Linked DNA regions of Homo sapiens: region 2 is linked to region 1. The links come from fine-mapping of genetic effects on plasma protein levels. Region 1 holds a variant in brackets. A gene starts in the other region. All regions are shown on their reverse strands.

The links. PIP is the chance, under the fine-mapping model, that this variant and not a neighbour inherited with it causes the effect. The UK Biobank Pharma Proteomics Project read protein levels with antibody pairs (Olink). The fine-mapping took linkage between variants from a reference panel, not from the people measured, so its PIPs are less certain.
Region 2: it holds the start of IL12A, and the variant in region 1 is fine-mapped to the plasma level of the IL12A protein (UK Biobank, PIP above 0.99).

What each region holds. Positions count from the first base shown.
Region 1 is chr5:159,433,478-159,436,501 of GRCh38, reverse strand. No RefSeq gene overlaps it. Among named protein-coding and RNA genes, the nearest start is that of LINC01845, 31 kb to the left of the region's middle. RefSeq lists an enhancer at 52-552. The variant A/G (reference allele first, on the strand shown) is at 1,318.
Region 2 is chr3:159,987,540-159,990,039 of GRCh38, reverse strand. IL12A (interleukin 12A) reads right to left here and starts at 1,205. Exons shown (of 7, transcript NM_001397992.1): 1 at 866-1,205. The coding sequence starts at 881. IL12A-AS1 (IL12A antisense RNA 1) reads left to right here. Exons shown (of 10, transcript NR_108088.1): 9 at 747-943. RefSeq lists enhancers at 945-994, 494-994, 995-1,495, 2,347-2,500 and silencers at 1,115-1,164, 1,235-1,434.

The DNA of each region.
Region 1 (3,024 bases):
TCACTCACCTGTGCAGTCATTGCCACATCATAGGTACAGAGGGTGGTCCCGCCATCTGGTGAAGAAGATGCATGGGCAAGATATGGCTGGATGCATGCCAGGACTTGTCTAGATGCACAGACGATATGTGGCCAAATGCTCCACGGTACCAGACACAGACAATGAGTCTTCCAAATCCTGGAGGGCTGGGGCCACCTGCTTTCAGGAGCTGGGGCCTCAGAATTGAACAGACCTGGTTCAGTGTCACCCTGTGTTGGCAGGACCCCCAGTCCCCTCTTCTCTGTGTTCTGTGATGGTGGTGAAGAGTGCAAGTGTCATGTCAGACAGAACTCGGAAAAAAAACAGCTCTGTAACCCTGGGGGCATAATTTTATCTGTCTGAGCTTTAATTTCCTCTGTCTGTCAAATAGAGTTGATGGTGGGACTGATGTCATAGGTTGTTAGAATTAAAATGAGTCACTCCATATAATGTGCCTAGAATGATGCCAGGCACAGAATTTGTATCCAGTAAGTGGTCACTGCCATTGTGGTTGGAAATACTCTGGCCATTTTTATTCTCCAAATTCCACCACACATCCAGCCTCTCCATTAGCTAGCACTGTGCGGCATGCATTCTCTCTGTAAGCCTCAGCCATTGAAGAACTGCCCAGAGAGACAAGGCAAGGTGAAAATTACATCCAATCCTATGTTCACAGGGACCAGACGAGCAGATTCAGAGTTGGATTGGATTTGGTCATTCGTTTATTCATTCATTTAATTATCCACAATTATGTGTTGAGAAACTCTTGTATGTCAGGCCCTGCTCTGGCTCTTGGACCACAGTCAGCAGTACAGAGATGGTCTCTGCCTTCAAAGAACTCACATTCCAGAGCAGTGCTGTTCAACAGAAATCCCACAAGCACATATGTGACTATAATTTTCTTGTGGTTGCTTTTTTTAACAGGTGCAAGGAAGCTTAATGATATATTTTATTTAGCCCACTATATCCAAAATATAATCATTCTGATATGTCATCAATATTAAAAATTAGTAATTGGATACTTTACATTCTTTTCTGTGCTAGGTCTTCTAAACCCAGTACGTATTTTTCACACACAGCCCCTTTCAGTGTAGACTGGCCACAGTTCAGGCACTCAGTAGCCACAAGGCCTCTGTATTGGACAGAGCTGCTCTCTTGTGTGTGTGAGGGAGCACCACCTTGTTTTTTAATTTTTTATTTTAATCAGTATATTGAAGAGTTATCTTCACTTCTATGCTTATTGCAGCACTATGCATAATAGCCAAGACTTAGAAGCAAACTAAGTGTCCATTAACAGAC[A/G]AATGGATAAAGAAAATGTGGTACATACACACAATAGAGAGCTATTCAGCCATAAAAGAGAATGAGATCCTGTCATTTCCAACAACATGGACGGAACCAGAGGTCATTATGTTAAGTGAAACAAGCCAGATACAGAAAGACAAACATCACATGTTCTCACTTATCTGTGGGAGCTAAGAATGAAAACAATTGAACTCATGGAGATAGAGGTAGAAGGATGGTTACCAGAGGCTGGGAAGGGTAGTCAGTGGGGATAGTTAATGGGTACAAAAAAATAGAAAGAATAAATAAGCCCTAGTGTTTGCTAGCACAACAGCGACTATAGTAAAATAATAATAATAATTGTTCATTTTTAAATAACTAAAAGAATAGAATTGGATTACTTGCAACACAAAGGATAAATGTTTGAGGTGATGGATACCCCATTTACCCTGGTGTGATTGTTATGCATTGCACGCCTGTATCAAAATATCTCATGTACCTCAAAAATATATACACCTACAATTTACCCACAGACATGAACATGTTTTGGTCTCCCCCATCCCACCCCTGCAAAGCCTTCACCATTTTTCAAATCAAATCTAAGCAACAGGCAAACCTGGCTTCAGACCCCAGCTCCTCTAATTATTAGCTGTGAAAATGCAAGATCCTTGTTTCATTTGATTTCCTGGGGCTGCCGTTACAAAGTACCATAAAGGGCGGGGGTGCTTAAAATAACAGAAATGTATTCTCTGACACTTCTAAAACCAAAGTCCAAAATCAAGGTGTTGGCAGGGCCATGCTCTCTCTAGAGGCTCGCAGAGAGAACCCATTTCACACCGTTCTCTTAGCTTCTGGTGTTGCCAGAAGTCCTTGGTATTCCTTGGCTTGTAGATGTGCCCCTGCAGTCTCTGTCTCCATCATCACAGAGCATTCACCCGTGCATCTGTGTCCTCATGTGGCATTCTCCTCTCTATGTGCACCTGCCTCTGTATCTCTTCTCTTCCTAAAGGATAACATTCATATCAGATTAAGGGCCTGCCCTACTCCAGCATGACCTCATCTTAAACACATCTTGATTACATCTGCAAAGACCCTATTTCTAAATGGGGTCACATTCACAGGTACCAGGGGTTAGGACTTCAACCTATCTTTTTGGGGTACACAATTCAATGAACAACACAGGGCCATTGTGAGGATTTGACAATCCACTGTGTGCAAATGCTCCGACATCTCAAAGAGACTCCTTTTATAGTCTCTGCTGGCATCTTGGCTGCTAGATCTCTGCTTGCCCTTATGGCTGACACCAGCCATCTCTGGCAGTTCCCATCACCCCCAGACTTGCCAGCTGCAGGGCATGTGACTCAAACTAGAAATGCACAAAAGGTGACTCCCCATGGAGCAAGCTTAGCTACTGGGGGACTCAAAATGGGAAAAAAGCAGAAGAGGTGTTTGCCCTCCTGTAGAGCCCTGCTCAGGCGGCAGAGGTCCGTAAGACCTCTTGGGACTGTCCAGCAAGATGGAGTAGCCTACAGGGCTGCTGCAGAACGGTGGTCACAACCGTAACACATTCCTTCACGTTACTCTCCTCCTTCACCACCGCACGCCCTTTCCCTCATGCCTTCTTCCCTAAGGTCACACTCCTGCCCTGGTTTGAGCACACGATCCCTCAGATTTGCTTGTCTAGAGTATCTGGACTAAGATATTCAATAAAGGGAAGTTCTATTA
Region 2 (2,500 bases), not on the chromosome of region 1:
ACACTTTTCCTTCAACACCTGAGAGATGACTCGAGTTATTACAAAGCGCCACTCTATTCTAGGGCTAGAAGCCAGCTCCCTGTGAGGGTCTAGAGATGAGCTTGGACAAGGGTGTTGAACCCAACACTCACCCAGAGAAAGCCTACATGTTTTTGATCAGGGAAACCCAGACCAGGTGGTGAAGTGGCTGAGTCAGACTTGGGACCCAGTGTTTTAAAAACAGTGGAGTGAGAAAGCCTGACTTTTTTTGTTTTTTTAAGACGGAGTCTCACTCTGTGGCCCAGACTGGAGTGCAGTGGCACGATTTTGGCTCACTGCAACCTCCACCTCCGAGTTCAAGCAATTTTCCCTGCCTTAGACTCCCGAGTAGATGGGATTACAGGCACCCACCACCACACTCGGCTAATTTGTGTATTTGTTAGTAGAGACGGGGTTTCACCATGTTGGTCAGGCTGGTCTTGAACTCCTGACCTCAGGAGATCTGTCCGCCTTGGCCTCCCAAAGTGCTGGGATTACAGGCGTGAGCCATTGCACCCGGCCAAGCCTGACTTTAGAACTGGCTAGGATCTGCCTTCTGTTTGTAGCTGAGGGACCCTAGGCAGGAAAGCAGGAAATCTCCCACGCTGGGCCTCAGTTTCTCCTCTACGAAGTGGGCATAATGATAGCTCATCAGGCTGTTTCGAGATGAAAAGAGACATGCCCTATTTAGCACACGGTGAGACCCCTATTCTTATTCCTCTTTGCAGGAGACGGCTGCTGCTGTTCCAGTCTCTCCTTAGGCAGACTTGAGTTTCTACCCACTCTTCCCAAGCAGCCGCCCCTCCGCACCCGAGCGAGCCAAAGACCTGGCGGGCTGAGTACTCACTGCGCGCTGGACACATGCTGAGCCGGCACTGCAGGGACACAGGGCGAGCCGCTGGATGCAGACCTGTGGCCGCGGCAGGTGAGGGCGGTGGCTGGGAGGCTGACCCAGGGGGCCACATTTTTATAATTGTCCCGAGGCGCGGCAGGACTTTCCCGGGACTCTGGTCTCTTGCTTTCTGTCTCCTTCTGTGTCTCTCTCTACATCAGCTTCTCGGTGACACGTGCGGTGCGGCCGGCCCGCGGGGCTTGCGGCGCTTTCGGATTAACTCCCGGGGTGCCCGGCCGCAGCCGTTCCGGGACGGCCCCGCCGCCTCCAGCTCGGCCCAAAATGAAAGCGAAATGTTCGCAGTTACTGCGCGGGGTCCACAGGCGGGCGGGACACCCCGCCCACCACCCTGGGTCCCCGGCCTTAGCCGGACGCCCCGTGTCTAAGCTACCCCGCCCCGCAGCTGTGCAGCGCCCCCTGCCGACGTAGAGAGAGGAGTGCCTCCCACTTTGCATGTCCTGCGTAGGGATGGGCCCTAACCACGACCTCCAGCCTAGTACTGGAAGGGGTAGGCAAATCATTCACTCATCATCGTTCCTTTAGATGGCTCACTAGATGCCAGGCCGACGTTGCACCAGGTGCAGGACACCCAGGGAGAACAGGACCCTTGGGGCATTGCCACACTAAATCAGACTCAAGGCGTTTTGTTCACAGGTCTTTTCTGAAACCTGAAAAGGGATGAGAGCTGGCTGACTCTGCAATTATTACTCTTGTAGAGAATCCAGTTTAACGATAGGATGAATACACAGAGTCCTGGGAGGAAAGACCTAGAGAAAGAGCCCACGCTCAGCCGGAGCAACGGGGTCCAGGAGTCAGCAAAGGCTCCCGGGAGCAGGCAGGGGCCCCAACCTGAGTGTTAAAAACAAGCAGGCATTAGACCGCTTCCAGCGGGAGGGCACGCAGGGTCTAGCCAGGGGAAACAGGGATCAGAAGCGCAGTCATGAAGGGTTGAGGGAGGTGGGGGTCTAGGTGTCCTTGCAGGGTGTGAGGCTGGAGGGCTGGATGGGGCCATGCCATGAGGGCAGGGGATGCCATACTAAGGAGTGTACTTTCTGTGCTGAGAGTAGTGGGGAGTCTTCCTGGGTTTTAGGCGGGAGATGTGGCAGAATTTGCATGATGGGGGGATCCCTTCAGCCACAGCATGAAGGATGGATCCAGGGGTCAGGAGTAGAGCAGAGGGAAGAGTTGACAAGGTGTGGCCAAGTCCTTATTCAGTATGGAGAACACAGGGTGGGCAGGAGGGACTCTCAGAGGGCTTGTGGGCCAAGGCTTGGTAGCTCCTCAGGTGAGCGGGAGAGGAAGGCCCTGAGAATGGGGAATGGAGATTGTTCTAGCTTTACAGGGATTACTGTATAAGAGGACTGAGTTTGGAGGAGATGGTGAGAAGTTCCATTTTGGATGTGCTGGGTTTGAGGTTCCTGTGGGACTTTTTAGTTCAGTTGTTTTTCCCACAGGCATTAGTCACCCTAGGCGTGGGTAGTGGGGAGGATGTGTTTGATCTCTGACTTGGAGCTTCCAAAGGGCCTGACTACACCCAGGCCCTAGGACCTAATAACTGGAGCTGCCTTCTGGGTGGCTCATCTGCTCGAA